Linked DNA regions of Homo sapiens. The protein of the gene in region 3 interacts with the protein of the main gene of each other region in a biochemical or structural test. Each region holds a gene or a part of one and is shown on either strand. Other genes may lie near its edges.

Region 1 (3,500 bases), on a different chromosome or scaffold from region 3:
CCAAGGTGGGCAGATCACGAGGTCAGGAGTTCGAGACCAGCCTGGCCAACATAGTGAAAGCCTGTCTCTACTGAAAGTACAAAAAGTAATGGGGCATGGTGGCATGCGCCTGTAGTCCCAGCTACTCAGGAGGCTGAGGCAGGAGAATCACTTGAACCCGGGAGGTGGAGGCTGCAGTGAGCTGAGATCACGCCACTGCATTCCAGCCTGGGCGACAGAGCAAGACTCCATCTCATGTAAGTAAATAAATGTCACTCTGGCCACCTGCCTGGCCCATGAATAGAAACTGTATAGTAGCTACAGTATACAGACTGGAAGCCCATCTAGCTCCCCAGCTACAGCTGCCTGCCCGCCTCTTCCACTCAGTCTTCTTTTCTCTCTTGTCAATCCCCTTTATCACTGTATCCAGTATACAGACTGGAAGCCCATCACAACAGCGACAAAGTTCAACACTGGGGATCCCCATTTCCCCTTTTGAGAAGAGTGAAGTAGCCGTGCCACTCCCCCAGGGGAGGGATCAGAGCCCAGGCTCCAGACTTACCACAAAAGTGTCATAAGAAAACCGGTGCCGGCGCTGGATGTGCTCTCTGAAGTTGGCGCTGCGGTAGTTGGGGTCTCCCCAGGGCATCGAGGCACATATCGGACAAACCTTTCAACACAAAAGCAAGGTCTTAGGCACCCAATTTCCAAGCTTGCACCAGCCCTCTGTGGCCTGTGTCTGGCCTCCTTTCTTCCAGGACAGCTTTCCTGACATACTGTCCAGGGCCAGTAACTCCTTCCTGTGCACATCAGCAGCCCAAAAAAACACTGCAAATTTCCAGCTCAAGTCAAATGACACGTGGGACTGGGTAAAGTTCAAATCATGATACCACCCTTTCTCATTCCCTACTGTAAGCAGAGAAGTGAGTCAGCCTGGTGGGGGGCCTAGACTGGCCTTCCAATCCAGCACACAAGACAATCCAAAAGCATGAGGAAAACTAAGAAAATAAGCCGATGAGCAATGTCCCAGGGAAGTAAAACACAGCCTTACATGCATCTTAACAAAGGAAATGCTCAGAAGAGGGGGATCAGGCTGAAAAGCCCTCACACAAAAGGTTGATTTGGTTTTTGAAGATTGGGAAGTATTTGGAAAGGCAAAGAGGACATGAAAGAGTGCTCCAGGCCGGGCACAGTGGCTCACACTTGTAATCCCAGCACTTTGGGAGGCCAAAGCGGTAGATCACCTGAGGTCAGGAGTTTGAGACCAGCCTGGCCAACATAGTGAAACATCTTCTCTACTAAAAATACAAAAATTAGCCTTGCATGGTGGCACACGCCTGTAGTCCCAGCTACCTGAGAGGCTGAGGCATGAGAATCGCTTGAACCCTGGAAGTGGAGGTTGCAGTGAGCCAAGATTGTGCCACTGCACTCCAGCCTCCAGCCTGGGTGACAGAGTGAGACTCTGTCTTAAAAAAAAAAAAAAAAAAATTGTGCTCCAGAAGAGAGGCAGCAGCACGGAGAAAAGGCCAGAAGGCGGCAGTTACTGTCAACACATGTAAACAACCAGACCAGTGAGTGCAGAAAACTCATGCCAGGGAGAGAGAAGACCTAAGTGCCCCCACTTAAAGGTGGAACCCTACCCCACAGCAAGGAAGATACAGTGATAAAGGGGATTGACAAGAGAGAAATCTGGAATGGTAGAAGACTGAGTGGAAAAGGTGGGCAGGCAGCTGTAGCTGGGGAGCTAGAACATAGGGTGGGACTAGAGACTGAAAAGGAGATGGCTTCTAAAGGGAAGGGAGAAACGCAGAGTTAAGAACTTGCAGAGGGCCGGGCGCGGTGGCTCACGCCTGTAATCCCAGCACTTTGGGAGGCCGAGACGGGCGGATCACGAGGTCAGGAGATCGAGACCATCCTGGCTAACACGGTGAAACCCCGTCTCTACCATAAATACAAAAATTAGCCGGGCATGGTGGCGCGCACCTGTAGTCCCAGCTACACGGGAGGCTGAGGCAGGAGAATGGCGTGAACCCGGGAGGCGGAGCTTGCAGTGAGTCGAGATCGCGCCACTGCACTCCAGCCTGGGCGACAGAGCGAAACTCCGCCTCAAAAAAAAAAAAAAAAAAAAAAAAAAAAAAAAAAAAAAAACTTGCAGAGGGAGAGGAAGACAGAACAGAGGGCCAAAGGCTGAAGAGAAGGCCTCAACATAGACAACATAATCAGAGGGATTTCAGAAGCCAAAGGAGGGGAAAAAGACAGAAAATTAGGCTGCCATACCAGAAAAGTTCAGCAATAACAGTATCCAACAAAATTATGAGTGCAAGTAACATTTAACCAAGTCAATCTGTATCTAAGACTTTAGCTTATAAACATACATAGATACAGGCAAAGATATGTTTCTCAAAATGGCCAGTTCCATCTTAAGATGAGCATTGATAGCTGCCCTAGTACTCTCACAAAAGCTCATTAAAATTCTAAAATTTCTGCACCACTGTTTACAGCAATGGAGCTGAAGGCTGCCCATACAACAGAGTATGTAGTTCAAGAGAAGCAGTATGAGATAAATGGAAAAATTAAAACTATAGAGGAAGTATACACCTAACTATAAAAAAAGACCTGGTCTGTCAATCACATTGAGAGAGAAAGGTAACACATTGCTAAGATGGAACAAATACTTTTTTGGGGGGGGGGGGGGGGGGGGGGGCAGTTTTGTTCTGCTGCCCAGACTAGAGTGCAGTGGCAGGATCTCAGTTCACTGCAACTTCTGCCTCCCAGGTTCAAGCAATTCTCATGCCTCAGCCTCCCAAGTAGCTGGGATTAAAGGCGCCCGCCACCATGCCTGGCTAATTTTTGTATTTTTAGTAGAGATGGGGTTTCACCATGTTAGCCAGGCTGATCTTGAACTCCTGACCTCAACTGATCCACCCGCCTTGGCCTCCCAAAGTGCTGGGATTACAGGTGTGAGCCACCGTGCCCAGCCTACATTTTTTTTTTTTTAAAGGAGACTACACATGCCAGTAGGTAATATCTGAGTAAAATGTCCAAGGATTGATAAGCCTTTTCCTAATAATTTCACCTAAATCCTCTTTCCCCACAACTATGAAGAAGCTACTTCCAAAAATAAAATGGCAGCTTCATGGAGAAATTTGGTGGACACCAAGGGAACCAAGTTAATGTTACCAACAACAGACATCACATGACTTAATGTAGCACCCAGAGGACAGAGAACTCGTGTACCATCCCTGCCTCTGCCTTGGGGGGAGGGGGAAATTGCTATGAAAGACATTACAATTGTTAAAATTAAAACATGAATTTCACATTAGACATTAGATTGAATCAATGTTAAATTTCTTGAATATGATTAATTATACACACAAAAATATAATTTTCCAAGAAAACATTCTTGTTCTTAAGACATACACACTCCTGTATCAGGGTGCGAAGTATTCAGGGTGCAAAAATGGTCATGGTATCTGTAGCTTATTCCCAAGTGGTCAGCAAAAAATGTGTACTATAGAGCA
Region 2 (4,104 bases), on a different chromosome or scaffold from region 3:
AGACAATGTTGATCAAGATTAATGGTGCCAACACCCATTGACCTAGCAATTCTACCTCTAGAAATTCTCCCTACATAAATACTTATACATGTAAACATGAAAATACAAGAATTTAGGCTTGGTGTGGTGACTCACGCCTGTAATCCCAGCACTTTGGGAAGGCAAGTCAGGAGGATCACTTGAGCCCAGGAGTTCCAGACCAGCATGGCCAACATAGTGAGACCTTGACTCTACAAAAAATTTTTTAAAAAATTAGCCGGGGGTGGCATGCATCTTTAGTCCTAACTACTGGGGAGGCTGAGGTGGGAGGATTGCGGGGTGGGAGGCTGCAGGGAGCTATGATTGCACCACTGCACTCCAGCCTGGGCGACAGAGCAAGACCCTGTCTCAAACAAATAAAAAAATTAAAGCATAACCTGTAGGAGATAGCTCAATGAATGCTGATGTTTAGAAGAAAGATTTGGGTTATCTCCGATTATTTTAGAAAGGAGATGCATTACAGAGATCAGGGAACAGTCTCTGAGAAGGATCCCCTGGGTTTTATGGCCATACCTATTGCTTTTAGCTGTATAACCTTGAGCAAGTTACTTACCTGAGCCTCAGTTTCTTTATCGGTAATCTGCATTATAGCTGTGTTGTGAAGGTTCAGTGGGATGGTGCCTGCAAAACCTCCCCCGCCTCGAACCTGACACATAATAGGCACTAAGCGTAGCCGTAATTATTATTTAATAAATATGTTGTTCTATGTGGTGATGGCAGATTAAGGGGCTACTTTGGTGATATAATCTGCCCTCCTGGGGTAGAGTTGAGGGCTTTGGAGTTGGGTGAATTCCTCTCTAGCACTCACTAGACTTCGAGCACATCATTCCCTAACCTCTATGGCCTCACTTTTCTCATCTGTAAAGTGGCCAGAATAAATTCCAAGTCTTGAGAGTTTGCTCTGAAACTTAAACGTATATTACTCATAAGAGTTTAATACACAATTATTTTATTTCCTGCCAATCTAATGGCGAAGACATGGAATAACCCATCAAACAGCCCAGTAACCCCAGGAAACCAGAGGGACGGAAACCAGGGCGATGGGCGAGTCAGTCATGGCCAGTGCGCCGTGTTTCGAAGGGGACGGCCATGGAGCGGTGGGTGGTCGCTCAGCTCCCCAATCGCTCTCCGACACCCGGCTGGGGAGACAGGACCTCCCTGGAGGCCGCAGCAGCTTGATTGTCACCCGGGCAACCCCACCTTCCGGTTCCCTCTACAACCCCTTGCCCCGCTTCCGGTTCCGGCGTCGTGCGTCATCGCTGGGCGACTGATTTCGAGTTTCCGGTCAGGTTAGGCCGGGGGGGTGCGGTCCTGGTCGGAAGGAGGTGGAGAGTCGGGGGTCACCAGGCCTATCCTTGGCGCCACAGTCGGCCACCGGGGCTCGCCGCCGTCATGGAGAGCGGAGGGCGGCCCTCGCTGTGCCAGTTCATCCTCCTGGGCACCACCTCTGTGGTCACCGCCGCCCTGTACTCCGTGTACCGGCAGAAGGCCCGGGTCTCCCAAGAGCTCAAGGTCAGTGCTGGAGCCGGCCTGGCCTCAGCCGGGTCATCTCTGTCCCAGGTGCTGGGGAGCCCATGATTCACCTTGGCCGCCCCACCGTCGGAAACTGTCCAAAAAAGGAAACAGCCTCTGAAGGGTGTCATCCAGCCAGTAGATGGAGGAGCGAGGGGCAGGATTCGGGCTCGGGATAACGGCTGCTCCGCTCCTTTTCTCCCAAGTCCCTCTTATGACTCAGAATGAATCTTGACTTCATTACTTTACTCGAAAAATATTTATTGAACACCTGCGATGCTCCAGGCAGTGAGTCGAACAGATGAAAGTCCATCCCCTCGTGGAGATACCATTTTAGTACGACTAGACAGCAAACATGTAAATCAGGCGGTGTAACAGATGGTGAGCAATGCTTTAGAGTAAGGTAGGGGAGAGAGGACATGGAATGCTGGAGAAAGGGGGATCTCCTATCTTAAATAAGGTGACATTTGAGCAGAGCCTAGGAGGAGATGAGGGGAGTCATGCAGATATCTAGCGGGAGATGGAAGGAACAGCAAGTGCAGACATCCATTTACTGAACCACTCCACTCCTTGCTTTACAGACGCTTCCTTTTTATATTACAACTATTTTTATAAATGGCGCTTTTTTCTGAACTGTGCTTTACGGTTTACACAACACATTTGCATTTATTTTTATTTTTTATTTTTTCGAGATGGAGTCTTGCTGTGTCGCCCAGGCTGGAGTGCAGTGGCGGGATCTGGGCTCACTGCAGCCCCTGCCTCCCGGGTTCAAGTGATTCTCCTGCTTCAGCCTCCCGAGTAGCTGGGATTACCACGCCCAGCTAACTTTTTTGTATTTTAGTAGACACAGGGTTTCACCATGTTGGCCAGGCTGGTCTCCAGCTCCTGACGTCGGGTGATCTCCCCGCCTCGGCTCTCCGAAGCGTTGGGATGTAAAGGCGTGAGCCACTGCGCCCAGCCACATTTTCATCTTGATTTTATTTTTTTCTTAACAATAATTTTTTTTCCTTTCTTTCCTCTCCTTTTCTTTTCTTTTTCTTTTTCTTTTTTTTTTTGAGACGGAGTCTCGCTCTGTTGCCCAGGCTGGAGTGCAATGGCACGATCTTGGCTCACTGCAACCTCTGCCTCCCGCGTTCAAGTGATTTTCCTGCCTCAGCCTCCGGAGTAGCTGGGATTACAGGTACCTGCCACCACGCCTGGCTAATTTTTGTATTTTTAGTAGAGATGGGGTTTTGCCATGTTGGCCAGGCTGGTCTCCAACTCCTGACTTCAGGTGATCCCTCTGTCTCAGCCTCCCAAAGTGCTGGGATTACAGGCGTGAGCCACTGCGCCTGGCCCACAATAATTTTTTGAAGTAAATAAAATGACAGTTACCACCACATTGCAAATCAGAAAATTGAGATTTGGAGGAAAGGCCATACAGCTAGTCAGCTTGAAACTTAAATTTAGGTCTTTTGATTCCAAGGGTAGGATTTTAATCTGATTGACATTGCTTTATTGTGACTATCTGACTGGTCCAGAGAGATGGACCTCTTTAGGTCAGAGACAGGGTCTTATTCATCCATTCTCTTTCCTCTAGCTTCTAACACAGTACTTGGCAAGTGGTAGATGCTCAGTAAATGTTTGTGGGTTCTTTTTGGCTGAAGTTTCACAATACAAGAGCTAAGGGCCTAACCTAATTTGATGTTTATATGAAAGATGGATTCCTAAACCTGACTAACTTAATTATCAGATTGTTTTCAGTAAGGGTTTAGAAACTAATGTGTGGGCCAGGCTACTCCAGCCTGGGTGACAAGAGCAGGACTCCATCTCAGAAAAAAAAGAAACCAATGTGTGAACTCCAGTCCCTGCCATGAAGGGAGTTTTGGAATCTGGAAAGAACCAAGTTATGAGGCAATTGGATTTGCTGTGCAGTGGCGTTATAGTGAGATTCCAGCTGCCCTGTATTTCTCCTGATTAAATAATCAAGTTAATCCTGAAGTGATTAGCTCTGTGTATCTGATACTTCACTTTCTGACTCCAAACCACTTTGGCCTCAAGTTGGCTGGAGGAGGGCTTCTTTGAAGCAGTGAACTCTTTAGGTCTCATCTTTGGGTGACCTTAAAACCTTTGCCAAACAGTTCCTAAATGAGGATGAAATAGCCCCTTCCTGGAAAAAAAGTTGGGACTGTTAATATTTTAGATTCTATTTTCTATTTCCTTCCTCTCTTTCTCCCTCCCTTCCTTCCTTTTCTTTCTCTTTGGCCTTCCTTCCTGTCCTTCATTTCTTTCTTCTTTCTTTTTTTCTTTTTCCTCTTCTTTTTTTTTTTTTTTTTTTTTTTTGAGACATGGTCTTACTCTGTTGCCCAGGCTGGAGTGCAGTGGCACAAACATAGCTCATTGCAGCCTCGAGCTCCCAGGCCCATGCCAGTCTCCTGCCTCAGCCTCCTAAGTAGCTAGGACTACAGGTGCACACCACCACCTCCAGCTAATTTTTTATTTTTCATAGAGATGGGGTCTTGCATGTTGCTCATGCTAGTTTTGCACTGCTGGCCTCAAGCAGCTATCCCACTT
Region 3 (3,500 bases):
GTAGACCCAGCTACTCAGGGGGCTGAGACATGAGAATCCCCTAAACGCAGGAGGTGGAGGTTGCAGTGAGCTGAGATCATGCCACTGCAGTCCAGCCTGGGTGACAGAGCCAGACTTTGTCATTAAAAAAAAAAAAAACAAAAAAACTATTACCTATAAGGCAGCTGTGCAGCTGTGTATGGCAGTTGTCTAAATATGTGGATAAAACAATCTTAAGTACAAAAGCTAACAAATAGAGAAAAGCTAAATGGAATTAGAGAACCACGTTATGTTACCAGTGCAATAATAGAAATACATTTTATTTGCATCATAAATAATTGCTCTTTAGTTAGAGAATAAGATTTATTGACCTTATACATTAAGAGATGTCAACATTTATTTCAAATCTGATATTTCAAAGTAAATGGAATTTTAAGTCAAGTCTAATATAGCTCCATAGCACAGTGCCAAAGCTCAGTGTTTGTTTTTGTGATCACTGTTGTTTGCTGCAAAAAAAAAAACAGCAAATACATTATTTAGGTTTGCCTAAAATTATGATTCAGAAGAGATGACAGAAAGTATCAAGTTCAATCCATTAAGTTTCCAAGTGAGGAGTATAAAGACTGAGTCTCCTGGCCAAGGTCACAAAGCCAAACTAGGACAAAGGGACAGACCATCTGACTTCTACTCCAGCACTCTTCCCACCCCAATTCAATACTCACCTCAACACTGTAACAGCTAGAGCACATTATTTTCAACCAACACTGAAGCAAACAATGCTCCAGTACTGTATTAAGGCCATTTGCACATTTTTAGCTATGCTCCAGAGAAACAAAAGTGTGATAAGTGAAGGAATGAGAAGGAATTCTTATCTTTTCTCAGGAGCTTATATCATATAAAAGGTTAGAAACGAATACTATTTCATAAGCTTTCAGGAGCGTTGTGTTTAAAGACACTCTGAGAGTCAAGAAAAACTTTACAGGAAATTATACACAACTTAAATAAATAGAATTTTCACATAAAATATGCAAATGGAGCATTTTGAGTGCTCCATTATCAAAACTTACTATTTACTTTACAGTAACCAAAAAAAGATGGAAGAAAAAAGAGAGAAAACCTAGCTGCCTATTTATTAAAACGTGTGTAAAACATGAACATGCCTACCAATACCTACCAAATATTTGTTATTAAATATTGCTTCTTACAGCTCTATACCTAATAACTGGCATATAGTGGGCACTTGAGTGTTTCATAATAAATTCTCTACTCTCTGTTAGTATCATCCAGTATTATTCTTGAATATTATGGTTGTACATCAGTCACTAAAATGCTGCTACTTGTAGAAGAAAACAATGCATACGGTCTGTATCAAATGCAAACGTTTCCAAGGCTAGAACAGTTTACATTATGTGTATATGTGTATCAATATATTTGTGTGTCTCTGTGTATGTGTATATGTATTCATTTGCTCTCCCTATATATGTATACATGTATATGTATGGTTGTATGGCATGTATTTTTAACATTAATTTTACCTAAGGATCTTATGTTATGGAACAGTGATTTTCCAGCTTTCCTTACAGCAATTTATAATATGAAAAAGATTTTACATTACAACCTAGTACACACACACACACTAAAACAAATTTCATGAAACAACACCCTTACTATATGCAAAGCACTAATATTTTCTATTCCATTTTAAAAAGTGGATGTTTATTATTCACTAAACTGTTTGGAAACTCATAAAAGAGAAAAAAAAAGATACTGGGAAGGTGTACACCTTAGTTTGGCATCCATTTCTTAGAAATAACCTACAGTCAATAGATACCAACTGGAAAATACCAAAATGAAGTCTACAAACTATTAACCATCATTCATTCAAAAGTGCTGTTGAGCACCTGAAAAGGCTGGGTCATAAAACAAGTCCCCACTTGGGAGGCTAAGGCAGGTGGATCACCTGAGGTCAGAAGTTTAAGACCAGCCTGACCAACATGGTGAAACCTTGTCTCTACTAAAAATACAAAAAATTAGCTGGGTGTGGTGGTGGGCGCCTGTAATCCCAGCTACTTGGGAGACTGAGGCAGGAGAATTGCTTGAACCCAGGAAGCAGAGGTTGCAGTGAGCCGAGATCGCGCCACTGTACTCCAGCCTGGGCGACAAGAGCAAACTTCATCTCAAAAAAAAAAAAACAAAAAAAAAACCAAAAAAAACAAGTACCCACAATTTAAAAGGAGTCAAATAATAATAGAATTTGTTCTCTGACCATAATGGAATTAGAAATCAACAACAGAAAGCTATCTGTAAAATCTCCAAACATATGGCAAATAAATAACGTATTTCTAAATAATCCAAGGGTCAAAGAAGAGATAAAAAGGAAAACTAGAAAATATCTTTAAATTTAAGTGAAAACAAAATACAGCAAAATTTGGGAGAAGCAAAAACACAAGCCAGAGATTTCCTGGTTTAAGAGAAGAGAAGAAAAATGAACCCAGACCATTTGTTAGGTCCACTTGGTTTTCTCTAGACAATCCAACCATACTACTCCCAAACTCTGCTCGCATAAGGAGGGTGGCCACCTAGAATGAGAACAATCAGATTATTATCTGAGGAAGCTTAAGGTGAAGGAACCAACTCCTCAGCTCACCCCCACTGGAGAAGTTTCTTAAGTCTGAAAAAAAACCCAGGAATCTAAATAAGAACTGTGGTGTCACTAAAAGAGATGAGCCATACAAACGGGACCATATGAATAGAGGACAGTGGGAAATACATCCAGAAAGAGGTAAGACAAGAGGATGCAGAGCATGATGGTGGAATGGACAGCACTAGACTGTATGCTTCTAGATAGCAGCTTCCTCCCCATACTAAGGACAATCCTGGAACACAACAGCCTGTTATTGTCTAATGTGTGAAACTGAACCTTCACAGATTCATCTCAGAACCAAATTAAGCACAGAAAAACCTTAGCTTCTCAGAGACCATCAAGACCAAGATGGGCCAGAAATAAAACCTGTCCTGCCTTCAGACACATGTGCTAAGGTGGCCTGAGGACCTACCCCTCCAATTCCCAAACTGCAAATATGGTCATATTATATATTCTAGTATCATTTATTCCAGCATTTCACAGGAGAGGAGAGAGGATAAGTATCTCAATTCCTGTTGTTAATTCAATGTAATCAGTTTATTCACTATTAAAAAGGCAGGGACTATTACATTAGTAGATGACCATTAACTCAGTTTTATGGCTAAATATTAGGTTTATCATTTCTATTAGTAGCACTCATTAAATGAAAATAAAGGGCCCATATGTTTTCTATGCGTATTTCAGGGAACTAAAGCGAGTAAGGACGCTATTTTGCTTTCCTGGAGGCAATCCCACATCCTGCTAGGTTTGGTTTTCATATGTGCCTGGCTTCTTAAAATAGGCATAAACAGCTTTATTTAGTTCTAGGCTATTTATTTCCACAGAGAAGAAATCTCAGAACTTTTTAACTGTCATAGGTTACCTCATTTTTTTATAC
Region 4 (3,500 bases), on a different chromosome or scaffold from region 3:
TTTTTTTTTGAGACAGGGTCTCGCTCTGTAAGGCTAAACGTGCCTTATTTCCAGAGTTTTTTGGTTTTGTTTCGTTTTTTTTTGCAAATTCTACTCCTGAGCAATTTGTTTATTTTTCTCTTTTCCCCAATCCTTAGAATCTGTGAACAATTTCCTGGTTTTGATATTATACCAGAGTTTTACAAGGGACTAAAACTTCTACCCATGTTTACAGGTATTTCCTCACCAGGCTCAAGTGAGGAACCACGCGAGAACCCTTTGGAAACTATGAAACACTGTACAGACGGGAGGTATTAGTATCACTGACAGGTATGAACAGGCAGCAAGCAGGTCTCACCTCTATAATTTGTAGGTAATATATGTAGAAATAAAATTGAGTAAACTTTGGATTTTTTTTACCCCAAAGACCTAAGAGGGGAAAAAAGCAAATATATCACATTGAAGTTACCATGTTTTCTACTTCTACAGAGCCAGATGCCAATATTGCTTTTTAAAGCACTTCTAAAATTAAAAACAATCCCTTAAAAAAGTTCATGGCAAACACATTGACTATAAATACTTGGAAAAATACTAAATTATTATTACTGGCTTATGCAAATGAGCATTTTACTCCTATTTTAAAGATGAGATTATTTTATAAAAATAGGTCAGAGATAACCCCAAATGACATTCTAAATAAATTATGTAAACCACTATTATTCAGAACCAAGACCTCAGTTTTTTAAAGAACTCACTATATAAACAAGATCTAGAGTCCAAATTTCTTAATCTGAAAGTAATCATTTTGCCTTATTTTAATATGATAGAACAAGCTTTTTGGGGGGTCAGGCAACTCGCTATTACATAATAAACATACTCTCTGGGAAAATAAGTCTGTTCAGAGCTATAAGACAAGTAGCCAAGAATTTTATTCTGTAGAACCCAGGAATCTTCCTAGTGAGGAAGTCCTTATAAATATGAGTATGTACTTTGAAATGCTATAATATTTTAGCCTTTTAAAATACATTCGGCACAATCATTTTGATTTTTCAGAATGTCTACATTTCAAAACAATTGGCAGTTAGTGTACTTACTAGTTGCTCTAAGAAATTCTTATCTATTTAAGAGCTTTTTAATCTTTTTAATTGTTGAAAAGCAATACATGCTCAAGGGGGTGAGAAAAGGGAGGAGATTAAATATTACAAAAGGCATATAATGAAAAGTCACCCTCTCTTCTCTCTTTTCTCTCCTCTCTCCCTCTCTCCTCTCTCTTTCCTCTGAAGAGGAGAACAGGAGAATCTCTTCAAAGGAAATCAACAGTCAAAATCTTTCAGTCGTATTCTATACAGACCTATCTATAGATTTCCCCCTTTATTTTTATTTCTTGTTTTATTATTCAAATAGTACACACACTAGCCTCTGTTTTGAATCATGCTTTTTCCCCCCACTCAATAATATATCTTGGAGAATGTTCCATATCAGAATATAAAACACTATCTTATTATGTTACAGCTACACATCATTGGGAATACACGATAATTTACTTAACTAGTCCCTGCTGATACACATTCACATTGATTTCAGTCTTTTATAATTTCAAACAATGCTGCAATGATTTTACACACCGGACTTTACATAAATGTGTGAAAACACCCATAAGAAAAAAGTCCTACATGCAGAATTGCTAGATCAAAGAGCATAAACATTTATGATCTGATAGACAGTGCCAAACTGCTCTTGGTACCTACTCTATCAATTTATATTCTCAACCACTAGAGTAAAAGACCTGTTTTTCCACACTCTTGTCTCATCACAGAAGATTTTCAATCTCTTTGATCTGCCACTCTTCTAGATGAAAAATTGTTTCATTCTTACTTTTAATTTGTAGTTTGTTTAGTATGAATAGGGCTGATTATCAATTAAAAATAAATTTTTAGAGAAAGAAAATGGGCATAAGAGAGAACAGGGCACAGCGGCATATACTTGCAGTCCCAGCTACTCAGGAAGCTGATGATCGCTTGAGCCCAGGAGTTCCAGGCTGCAGTGAGCTATGATCACGCCAGTGTACTCTAGCCTAGCCTGGGCGACAGAGCAAGACCCCATCTCTAAAGAAGAAAAGGAAAGAAGAAGAGAGAAAATAGGGTTGTCTTTTCACATGTTTCAAATCCATTTCCATTTTCTTTTCTGTGAATTGTCCATATTCTTTGCCTATTAGGTACTGGCCTTTTCCTAATTGATTTTGAAGGCTCTTTATATATTAGGAAAACCAGACTTTCATTTTCGTATCCATTACAGATTGTTGTTCCTAGTTTGTCTTTGCATGTTGATTTTATCCTATTTTTTGCCATGGAGAAATTTTCCATCCAGCTAAAGTTTTTTATTGTTTATAAGTGTTTTTCAGCTGATCTTTTGGGCTTTTAAAGATATATCATAACGTCTATAAATAACAGCAATTTTGTTTCCTGCTTTCTGATGTCTTTCTCTAGTTATTAATAATAACTATTTTGACAGTGTACATCCCTGCATTGTTCCTGATTTTAATGGGAATGTTTCCACAATTTCATCATTTAAAGATGATGCTGGCTAGGTGCAGTGGCTCATGCCTGTAATCCACGTACTTTGGGAGGCTGAGGCAGGTGGATTGCTTGAGCTCAGGAATTCAAGACCAGCCGGGCAACAGGGCGAAACCCCATCTCTACCAAAACTACAATGATTAGCCAGCCGTGGTGGCACATGCCTGTGGTCTCAGCTACTCGGGAGGCTGAGGTGGGAGGATCACTGGAGCCCAAGAAGTCGAGGCTGCAGTGAGCTGTTATGGTGCCACTGCACCCCAGTCTGGGTAACAGAGTGAGACCCCATCTCCAAACAAAACAAAAAATAAACATGATACTGTCCGATGGCACATTACCTGGCCTGGGAAAAACATAAAATAAAAATAAAGATAATACTGGTTTTGGCTTCTAACACTATTTCTCTAAGGAATTTCTGAATACATAATTTATCAATTCATTGTATTATTTTTCCATGTTTATTAACCGGTTCTATAGATTTTCTTCAATGTCAAAGTACGTTATTAGCTTTATTATTTACCTGGCTATTTAGGAATAAGACATAACAGGAATCTATGACTGTATTAATACTGTGCTACTCTATAAATAATTCATAACTACTCATTAAAATATTTAATCCATCTCTAGCAGGTCCTTTTGTGCTCTAAAAAGACAGATCTCTGGCATTAAAGATAGGAAAACTGAATCATGAAAAGATCATAATCCTATGCACCCCCTCCCCTTTCTTCATTGTGGTACTTGTGTGAATTAGAAATCAAATTCAGACCTTCTGATCCCCAGTCCAGTGTTGGAACCACAGGAAAGCATCATGCCCTTTAGAGAACTCAGCGGATGCCCAACATACAAAGAACGCAGGCTGCCATCTACAATCTGCAGCTTCGTGACATGCTCCTCCAGACTCCTGAAAGCAAGCTGCAAGTTGGGCTCCGGAGCTTAAAACATCTGAAATGC
Region 5 (2,543 bases), on a different chromosome or scaffold from region 3:
GGGAGGCTGAGGCGGGCGGATCACGGTCAGGGGTTTGAGACCAGTCTGGCCAACATAGTGAAACCCCGCCTCTACTAAAAACACAAAAATTAACCGGACATGGTGGCGCGTGCCTGTAGTCCCAGCTACTCCGGAGGCTGAGGCAGGAGAATCGCTTGAACCCGGGAGGCAGAGGTTGTGGTGAAGTGAGATTGCACCACTGAACTCCAGCCTAGGCAACAGAGCCAGACTCCAACTCAAAAAAAAAAACAACAACAACAACAAAAAAAAAAACCCCAAAACTTAGTGCAGAACCTGCCACATAGTAGGCACTGCAATTTCTACTGAATAAAGAATGAATACAGTAGCAAGGCAAAGGCAAACTGAAGGCTGAATTAAGATTTAACTCAAGCTCCACTGTTCAGTGGCAATCCTACATCAGCATAGATGTAATTTTATCATCCCTAAAACAAGATAAAACATAACCACTTTATATGAAAGAACTACCAATGTAAAAGAAGTATGACAAGGGTTTTTCATGTTTATTTAGCAAGTTAAATGCTGTTTTTACTGATGATAGAAAGCAAATAAGATACTCCTCAAAATCAAAGAAAATAATTAAAACTATAAAGTATTTGTTCACCTGAAGTTCAGTATTTATGACATAATTATGCCCTTAGCTACTTTCAAGATTTTAACTTTACTAAAATAAACTTTAAAAAAAAATACTGCATAGGAAAATGTCTGATTCTTGTTTTAAAGTGTTACTGTTTTATTTTTTTTCTTTTGTTGAATACACATTTGTTTTACTGGCAGTCCAGATAAACAAGTATATAAAGGAAATAGTAAATTTTTATTTTGGCAGAAGATAAACTGTGCAGATTAAAATGCCTCAATTTAACCTGAAGAAATGGTTTTGAATCATATAAATTTTTAAGAAGAAAAATAAAGACTGTCCAAAGGGATTCTCCTAGCTTATAACACATTTCCAGAATAACTCTCAAAAAAAAAAAATTCAAAAATACTCATTGACTACCTTAAAAATATGTCAATACCGTATGGCTTTATGAAATAACTTCTAAAATTTATATAATTTTTCTTATTTAAAAAGGACCCCAAGTTTTAAATAAGCTGCTAGCAGTATCATTTTCTTCACTTAAAAGTGCATATCTTTGAGGGTGGGACATACATTTTGAACAAATAATGATTTTTACAAATTAACACCAAAAAAAAAATCATTTAAAATATTGTAAGGAGGAAGAGAGTTTTCACCAAATGTCATCTTTAAATAGACTGCAGTAGACGACATTCTTCCTTTTTCCTTTTTATAACATCATAATTCTCAATGAAATGCTTTGGCAGTTTTAAGACATATCACAGTCTCTACCAAGACATACTGACATTAATGATGTCCGTGGCGATGGCAATTGCCTTGATGGCTCAGTTTGAAGAGACACAATGTTACTGGGCTGGTTCTCCAAATCAGAAACAAAGGTGCTCTCTTCTCTTACATCGAGAGTTTGTTCAACTGAAGCTGCCAGAGGTGGAATATTATCTACAGTTTTGTTGGCATTATTCAAGTTGTTACTAAGTGTGGCAATATCACATTCCTTGTCCAGCACACCAAATTCAGCTTCTATTGTAACTACATCTTTAGTTTCAAATGGTTCCAAGGAAGGAGCCAAAAACTCATTTTGTAGAGGGTCTTGAGGACCACTATTGTCACATTCTGTATCCTCCTTTACTTCAGAATCCTTATCACTGTCACTGTCAATGGTAATTACAACTGGGGAACGTGAAGCATTATCTCCATGGTGTTTCTTATGCTTCTTCTTATGTTTCTTCTTTTTCTTTTTATGGTGTTTAGTTGTATCAGTAGCTTTTCCTTCATAAACTATCTCTACACTTAGGCTCCGGGTCTTCCTTTTTCTCCTTTTGTGTTTTGTCTCTCTGTCTGATGATCGGCTGTCTGAAAAGGTATCACTCTCATTTTTGTAGTTTCCATCCAATTTTGATGAAGATTTTTGGTAATGACTGTCCTTTGCTTTAGAAGCAAATTCACGAGATGGCTGAGCCACTTCGTTAGTACCCTCCAAATGCCGTGTTTTGTATTTTCGTTTCCCTCCAGGCTTTTCATTTCTCACCCGGTCAGTCCCGGTAGATGCAGTCCTTGATCTGTTACTAGACAGGCTCCTTGATCTGTGCCTTTCATAGTAGTAATACTTCCTCTCACTGTGATTATTTTTTTTCCTAGCATTTGTTCTTTCAGAAAAGGACTGAACTCTAAATTCTGGACTTGAAGACTGTCTAGAATAATGAGCTCTGGACAGAGTCCTCCTCCTGTAAGATGATTCGTACCCATCCCTGTCCTTGTTTCTACTGTAATAAGTATACTCCCATTTGTATCTGCTTCCATAATTATTTCTTAAATAATAACGATCTCTATTTCTGCTCCGTGATCTTCTTTTACCATGATCACTGCTACGAGACCTTGATCTGCTTGTGCTTTCACTACTTAGAGACAGAGTTTGGCTTCTTCTGGACCAACTGCTATCTCTAGTTCT
Region 6 (2,763 bases), on a different chromosome or scaffold from region 3:
GAAGCAACGAAAACTCTGGGGTGAGGGATTGAAAAAATCTGAAATCACAGTTGGATTTTTAAATTCAACCATCAAAAATATGTACTATCAGTTTTTTTTTACATTGATGTGAAATAAGCAAATTTTCATGATAATTAAGCTGCAAAATTTAAAGTTATCAAGTAAATAGGTCCTCTGTGTTCTGTTTCATGTGATGGAGTGGGTTTCAGTCTGTGTTCTTGGAGCCAAAGGGTTCCTCAGGGGTGCCTCAGGAGTAATGGTTTAAGAGAAGAGGGGCAATGAGAGGGAGCGAGGGGGAAGGCCTAGTTGGTATTTGAGCAGGGGCCTTAGGCTCCATATCCCCACCCCCTTTACCCAGAACAGCCCATTTTTCTTATGTATATTGGAATTTCAAGTAAGCTTTCATGGGGTGCAGTGGGGCGGGGAGGAATGGATGGGATAAAAAAAGTGGAGATTTTGCTGCTTTAAAAAAGTTGAGAACTACTTGTGTAGTTTTTAAGTATTTTAATGTATTTCATTTGGCCAAATTCAACTGCCACAAGCAAGCTAGTCATAGTTGTAACTGTGCAGTGGTAATATGCTTATGCCTACCTTTTTCCTCTCAAACAATTTGTTTTTTTTACATTGCATTCTGAGTACTGAAGAGCATCTTGAAATGTATGGAAGTGGTTTCTATGCTATTTGATAATCAGTAATGTTCAGCTGTCATGATAGTACTTTACTGGTTGCAGACCCATCTCTCTTTTATATTAAAGCACTAGTGCAGTTTATAATTGTGCCTACTTTTAAAATCTTTCAGTAAAAAAGTACATAATGAATACAGAAATCATAACTGACAGGGATACAGTAATAATGAAATGCTACTATCACTTATTTTAATATACAATATAAAGCAGGCAAATACCATTGCTTTTTGAGTGCCTTTTTAACTTTATACTAATGACTTAATAGAGCTTTAAAAGAAAGAAATTGGCTGGGCATGGTGGCTCACACCTGTAATCCCAGCACTTTGGGAGGCCGAGGTGGGCGGATCACCTGAGGTCAGGAGTTCGAGACCAGCCTGGCCAACGTGGTGAAACCCTGTCTCTACTAAAAATACAAAATTTAGCCGGGCATGGTGGCGCACTCCTGTAATCCAACTACTTGGGAGGCTGAGGCAGGAGAATTGCTTGAATCTGGGAGGCAGAGATTGCAGTGAGCCGAGATCGCACCACTGCACTCCAGCCTGGGCGACAAGAGTGAGACTCCGTCCCCGCCCAAAAAAAAAAAAAAAAGAAATTACTCTCCATAACAGTCTATGTTATCACCAACATATATAAAAACATGATTTAGATTTCCATTTCAAAGTTACATTACCCGATTACTTCCAAATAGGTGCTAAGCAAAAACCCCCAATGTATTATTGAACCATGGACTTGCACCTCATGTTTAATGTGAATATTTATTTCCATGTCCCTCTTAACTGGTTTTTTCTTGTCTTCCCTCTAGCTGTATTGTTATTTCAGATATGTGATATCTGTTTTCATACTCTTGCCTTTCCATCATGAATGCTTAGTTATGAACAGAGATTCCTTTGTAGAGCTCATAGGCAGTACAGAGAGGTAAGTCTTGCCTCAGAGGGCCTTGTATCTTGGTGTAGTTTTTAAATAGTGCATAGTGTATAGTGTATAGTGTACATTTTGTTTTGCACATAGTTTGTTGCCCCGAATGGGTTTTTTACCAAGCCTTTTTTTCTTTCATGTATTTACAGTCCGGAGCACAAGATTCTCTTCTTTCAAATACAATGTAATTCGCTTTACTTTACAACACTAAATCTGGGCTTTGAATTTCCAGTGCATTGGACTGATTGGATTGTTGGGAGTTAGAGGCTGTTCCAACCATCCTTAGTTTGGGAGAGTGGCTCCTTCTGCTTGTTTTCTAAGCGTACAGTCAACGGGTGCCATTTGTGGTATTTAACATGTTAGGATGATTGTTCCAAATGCTGAGTTGTTTTATTTCTAGATGTAATTAGTTCACTTTATGTAATATTCTTCTCTCAGACTGACTTTAAAAACAAAGTTTTATCATTTTCATTGTATTTGTATTTATTACAGAGTGTTTTAGCTTTGATATTCTTTGTATTTTCATTCATTTGTTACATGAGCTTTATCAGTAACATCTGTATAAATGGTTTTTAAAAATTAACTATGTATGTGCCCATGCCGAAGTCGAGCAATAAAATCAATGCTGTTTGCACTGTCACAGCATCAACGTTTTTAAAGAATATTGAGTTTGTAATGAATCGTTTTGAAAACATTTATGGTTGGCTCTATGGAGGGTGACAACATGAGTCACAAAATGAAAAGTTCAAGAACACATGCCATCCTGAGTTGATGCCTCTGTCATGTTGCAGAGCTCAGCTTTCTGTCTCCTCGCAGAGCAGGGAAGGTGCCCGTTTTCTCCGGCCGTGGTGACTGCTCAGTTGGTAGTACCTGTTGGGGGTACCGCATAGGTGGATTTCTGAGGGGGGTCAGGGGCTAGTGGGGAAGAGCATCTTGGTCCTGTCACCAGTCTGCAACCATCTTTGCTATAATACATCTCCGCTCTGTAGGGCAGGCCTATGACAGGGGCTCATATTTGCCAGCCCTACCTTGGTATGTCGAGCAGTAAAATTCTCAAAATGAAAAGGAGAAATCAATTGTATTTTTTCTAGAAGCTGTGGATTTTAAGGTTTATAATTCACTACTGTATTAATGATAGTGGACTAAAGTCCAGCTAACTCTA
Region 7 (2,925 bases), on a different chromosome or scaffold from region 3:
CTCATTGTGAAATAAACAATGCATGGCCACTAAAGCAGTTCTTTGAAAATGCAGCGTCAACACACCCACATTGACAGCAATGCAAAGTCACTGAAATTTTCTAGAATGACATGAGAAAAAATCCTTATAGATAGTCTTTTCCAATGCAAACTTCTCTTTTAAACACTTTTATTAGAAAAGTTTGCTAGTAAGGCAGGAAAGTAACTTTTAGATTTTTATGAATGAGGGTTTGCTTTTTGGAACCCTTTCAAATTTTGATAGCCTTAAAAAACTACTCTTATTTAACAAAGAGAAACAGCCAGCGGTAATCTGGAGCTTGGAGTTGATATGAGAATGGCTATTTCATCACCAGGTAATTCCTCCAGGTCACTGAATGGCTATTTCATCACCAGGTAATTCCTCCAGGCCACAAGTGAGGCCCATGGAGTAATACAGCCTGTGATTCCCTCCGTCACCCTTCACATTGATTGAAAATGTATCTTCAAAGACAGACTCAGAAGCTCTTTTGATGCTTTATTGACAATTTAAGTACAATCTTAGAGTTGTCAGATAATCTCAACACACTTCAGAGAAAAACAGACTTTTTCTGCAAAGACTTTATTTCTATTTTTTGATACATTCATATTTTGTTACACCCTTCCTGTGCAAATAATACTGTGATTCATGTTCATGTGTAGTGGATGATCTTGCTTTTTTGTTTTTGTTTTTTTTTTTTTTTTGAGACAGAGTCTCACTCTGTTGCCCAGGCTGGAGTTCAGTGGCGTGATCTCGGCTCACTGCAACCTCTGCCCCCCGGGTTCAAGTGATTCTCCTGCCTCAGCCTCCCAGGAAGCTGGGATTACAGGTGCCTGCCACCACGCCCAGCTAATTTTTGTATTTTTAATAGAGACGGGGTTTCATCATCTTGGCCAGGCTGGTCTTGAACTCCTGACCTCGTGATCCACCCACCTCGGCCTCCCAAAGTGCTGGGATTACAGGCATGAGCCACCGCGCCCGGCCTGCTCTAACTTATTTTAAGAATCACTGTTCTATTCTGGAAAGGGAAAAGACCACCACCAAGAAGGGAAAGGAGACCATGCTGGACAGCCTAATAGTCTAACAGGGGATCCTAGGGTGCCTGAGCTCATGGGAGCAAACCTTGTTCAGGCACCGCAAGCCCAACGCAGCATGCAGATTGGGAAGGCGCAATAATGCAAACACCATCAGGAAGAAAGCTATGGATGATGGAAAACACTGTGTGCTCCACGTGACAGAAGGGAGCCACCTGATTTGTCGCATCGGGCCAGTGTAAGGAAGTGTAATTTAGTGGGACTGCCAGTGACACTAAGTCAGGCCTTGATCAGGGTCTGGACTCAGTATGGACACGAGCCACTGGGTGCAGGGGGCTCATGCCTGCCACCTCTCTTTTTTTCCCTTACTATAGAGACTTTGATCTGTCCACCATTTCTATGTGAGCTTTGGGCTTCCTGTCACAGGTCTGTTGTCACCGTGGGGCCATGTTGGAGTCGGTAGATTTTCAGACAGTGAAGCCACATGAAGCTGTGAATGCTGATGTGGCTGCTGCAGAGCCCAGTCTCTCCCCGGTGCAGGGCCTCTGAGACGACGGGACTGTCCTCAGATGGTTGGAAGAAATGGGTTATCTTAGGCAGTTAGGAAAAGAGGGACAGGTGTCCCAGGATGTGGAAAACTTGAGTTCATCCCCTCTCTTCCCTCCAGCAAGGATTTCAGTGCTACATCTAAAAAGAGAAGCCCTGTTGCCGATTTAATAATTTACAGTCTCTAAATCCAAAAGGGCCTCCATGTGCTAGTGAGACTCATGCCCTCAGTTATGTTCACGATCTTCCTGAGAAGTCAGACAATACAGGTAGAACAAAAGATAGTGGTTGTACTTTCTCTTCTGCGTAGTGTGGGTAAGAGCATGCGGTTTGCCGCATGCAGTGTTGTTAATCTTTTGATTGTGTTGTGAATGGCTGAAAAAAAAGCTGAAAGTTTGATTGAACTGAAATCCAATCCATGTCAACATAAGGAATATTCTAGTGAGTTTACTGTCCTAAGAGAAGGTCTCTCCTGGGGAACCCCTGGTATGCAGAGCTCCCTGGGACTTGCAGATTGGACAGAGAGGGTGTGCCAAAGGGGTATAAACCCTTCTGATGGAGAGAGTCGGGCGTGTCTTCATTTTGGTAGTTCTGGAAAGGCTCCTCTTTAAAGATTCTGATTTAATAATGTTCACTTTTGTTAAGATTGAATATCATTTTGAAATCATTTCTAAACGTGTTTCCTTTATAGGCACTTTATCTATTAAATTTACAGTGGAGCCAAATGTATTAGCAAAATCTCCAAGTTGCAAAATGAATACTCAGAATCAAACTATAGATTTTTTGGTGATACTTTCAGAAAAACAATTTCTTTCTAAAGTTGCAAATCATGAAAGGGAATGAAAGTACATTAACTTGATTTCTTCCCTGTAATTCAAACATTCAACATTCAAATTAACTTTCATAATTTCTCACTTTGTGACAAGTTGATTTACGCATAGTTGGTATTTCATTAATGCGATTTATATAGATGGAATTCTTAAGGATAAACAAATGTTTTTGACTATTGCCTGGGGTTCTTTGGGAATAGATGCTTTCTGAAAATTTAAATAAGAACATTACTGTTAAAGCCATGAATCTAGTTTGGAGAACCCACTGCAGTTCATTTTACAGAGAAACACCTTGTCAATGGCATCTTCATGGTGTTTACTGAAGGTAAAAGGCAGGATATTAAATGTGAGAACTCTCTCTCCAGCTACTGATTCTGCCTGTCTCGAATTCAGGTGAGAATGACCCATACAGATACATGGATTGCACTTGAATCTGTGCTCTGGTATTTGTGTCATCCGGAGGCTGAGAACGCCTGTTGGTGGTGTCGCAGATGGCTCTG

Evidence for each region.
Region 1: the proteins of UBE2D1 (region 3) and RNF114 form a complex in vitro, tested with the Homo sapiens proteins (3 studies listed by BioGRID, with this or other methods).
Region 2: the proteins of UBE2D1 (region 3) and MUL1 form a complex in vitro, tested with the Homo sapiens proteins (4 studies listed by BioGRID).
Region 4: the proteins of UBE2D1 (region 3) and SMURF1 form a complex in vitro, tested with the Homo sapiens proteins (3 studies listed by BioGRID, with this or other methods).
Region 5: the proteins of UBE2D1 (region 3) and TOPORS form a complex in vitro, tested with the Homo sapiens proteins (3 studies listed by BioGRID).
Region 6: the proteins of UBE2D1 (region 3) and SMURF2 form a complex in vitro, tested with the Homo sapiens proteins (4 studies listed by BioGRID, with this or other methods).
Region 7: the proteins of UBE2D1 (region 3) and PRKN form a complex in vitro, tested with the Homo sapiens proteins (3 studies listed by BioGRID).

The regions. Positions count from the first base shown.
Region 1 is NC_000020.11:49,946,397-49,949,896, reverse strand, and holds part of RNF114 (E3 ubiquitin-protein ligase RNF114), read right to left. Parts: intron 650-3,500; coding exon 542-649; intron 1-541. UniProt on the Homo sapiens protein: E3 ubiquitin-protein ligase that promotes the ubiquitination of various substrates. In turn, participates in the regulation of many biological processes including cell cycle, apoptosis, osteoclastogenesis as well as innate or adaptive immunity.
Region 2 is NC_000001.11:20,505,352-20,509,455, reverse strand, and holds the start of MUL1 (mitochondrial ubiquitin ligase activator of NFKB 1), read left to right. Parts: upstream 1-1,304; 5' UTR 1,305-1,431; coding exon 1,432-1,551; exon of another isoform or gene 1,552-1,929; coding exon of another isoform or gene 1,930-1,932; intron 1,933-4,104. UniProt on the Homo sapiens protein: Exhibits weak E3 ubiquitin-protein ligase activity. E3 ubiquitin ligases accept ubiquitin from an E2 ubiquitin-conjugating enzyme in the form of a thioester and then directly transfer the ubiquitin to targeted substrates.
Region 3 is NC_000010.11:58,341,506-58,345,005, reverse strand, and holds part of UBE2D1 (ubiquitin-conjugating enzyme E2 D1), read right to left. Parts: intron 1-3,500.
Region 4 is NC_000007.14:99,134,109-99,137,608, forward strand, and holds part of SMURF1 (E3 ubiquitin-protein ligase SMURF1), read right to left. Parts: intron 1-3,500. UniProt on the Homo sapiens protein: E3 ubiquitin-protein ligase that acts as a negative regulator of BMP signaling pathway. Mediates ubiquitination and degradation of SMAD1 and SMAD5, 2 receptor-regulated SMADs specific for the BMP pathway.
Region 5 is NC_000009.12:32,540,044-32,542,586, forward strand, and holds the end of TOPORS (E3 ubiquitin-protein ligase Topors), read right to left. Parts: coding exon 1,344-2,543; 3' UTR 501-1,343; downstream 1-500. UniProt on the Homo sapiens protein: Functions as an E3 ubiquitin-protein ligase and as an E3 SUMO1-protein ligase. Probable tumor suppressor involved in cell growth, cell proliferation and apoptosis that regulates p53/TP53 stability through ubiquitin-dependent degradation.
Region 6 is NC_000017.11:64,541,782-64,544,544, reverse strand, and holds the end of SMURF2 (E3 ubiquitin-protein ligase SMURF2), read left to right. Parts: 3' UTR 1-2,263; downstream 2,264-2,763. UniProt on the Homo sapiens protein: E3 ubiquitin-protein ligase which accepts ubiquitin from an E2 ubiquitin-conjugating enzyme in the form of a thioester and then directly transfers the ubiquitin to targeted substrates.
Region 7 is NC_000006.12:161,346,917-161,349,841, forward strand, and holds the end of PRKN (E3 ubiquitin-protein ligase parkin), read right to left. Parts: 3' UTR 501-2,925; downstream 1-500. UniProt on the Homo sapiens protein: Functions within a multiprotein E3 ubiquitin ligase complex, catalyzing the covalent attachment of ubiquitin moieties onto substrate proteins. Substrates include SYT11 and VDAC1.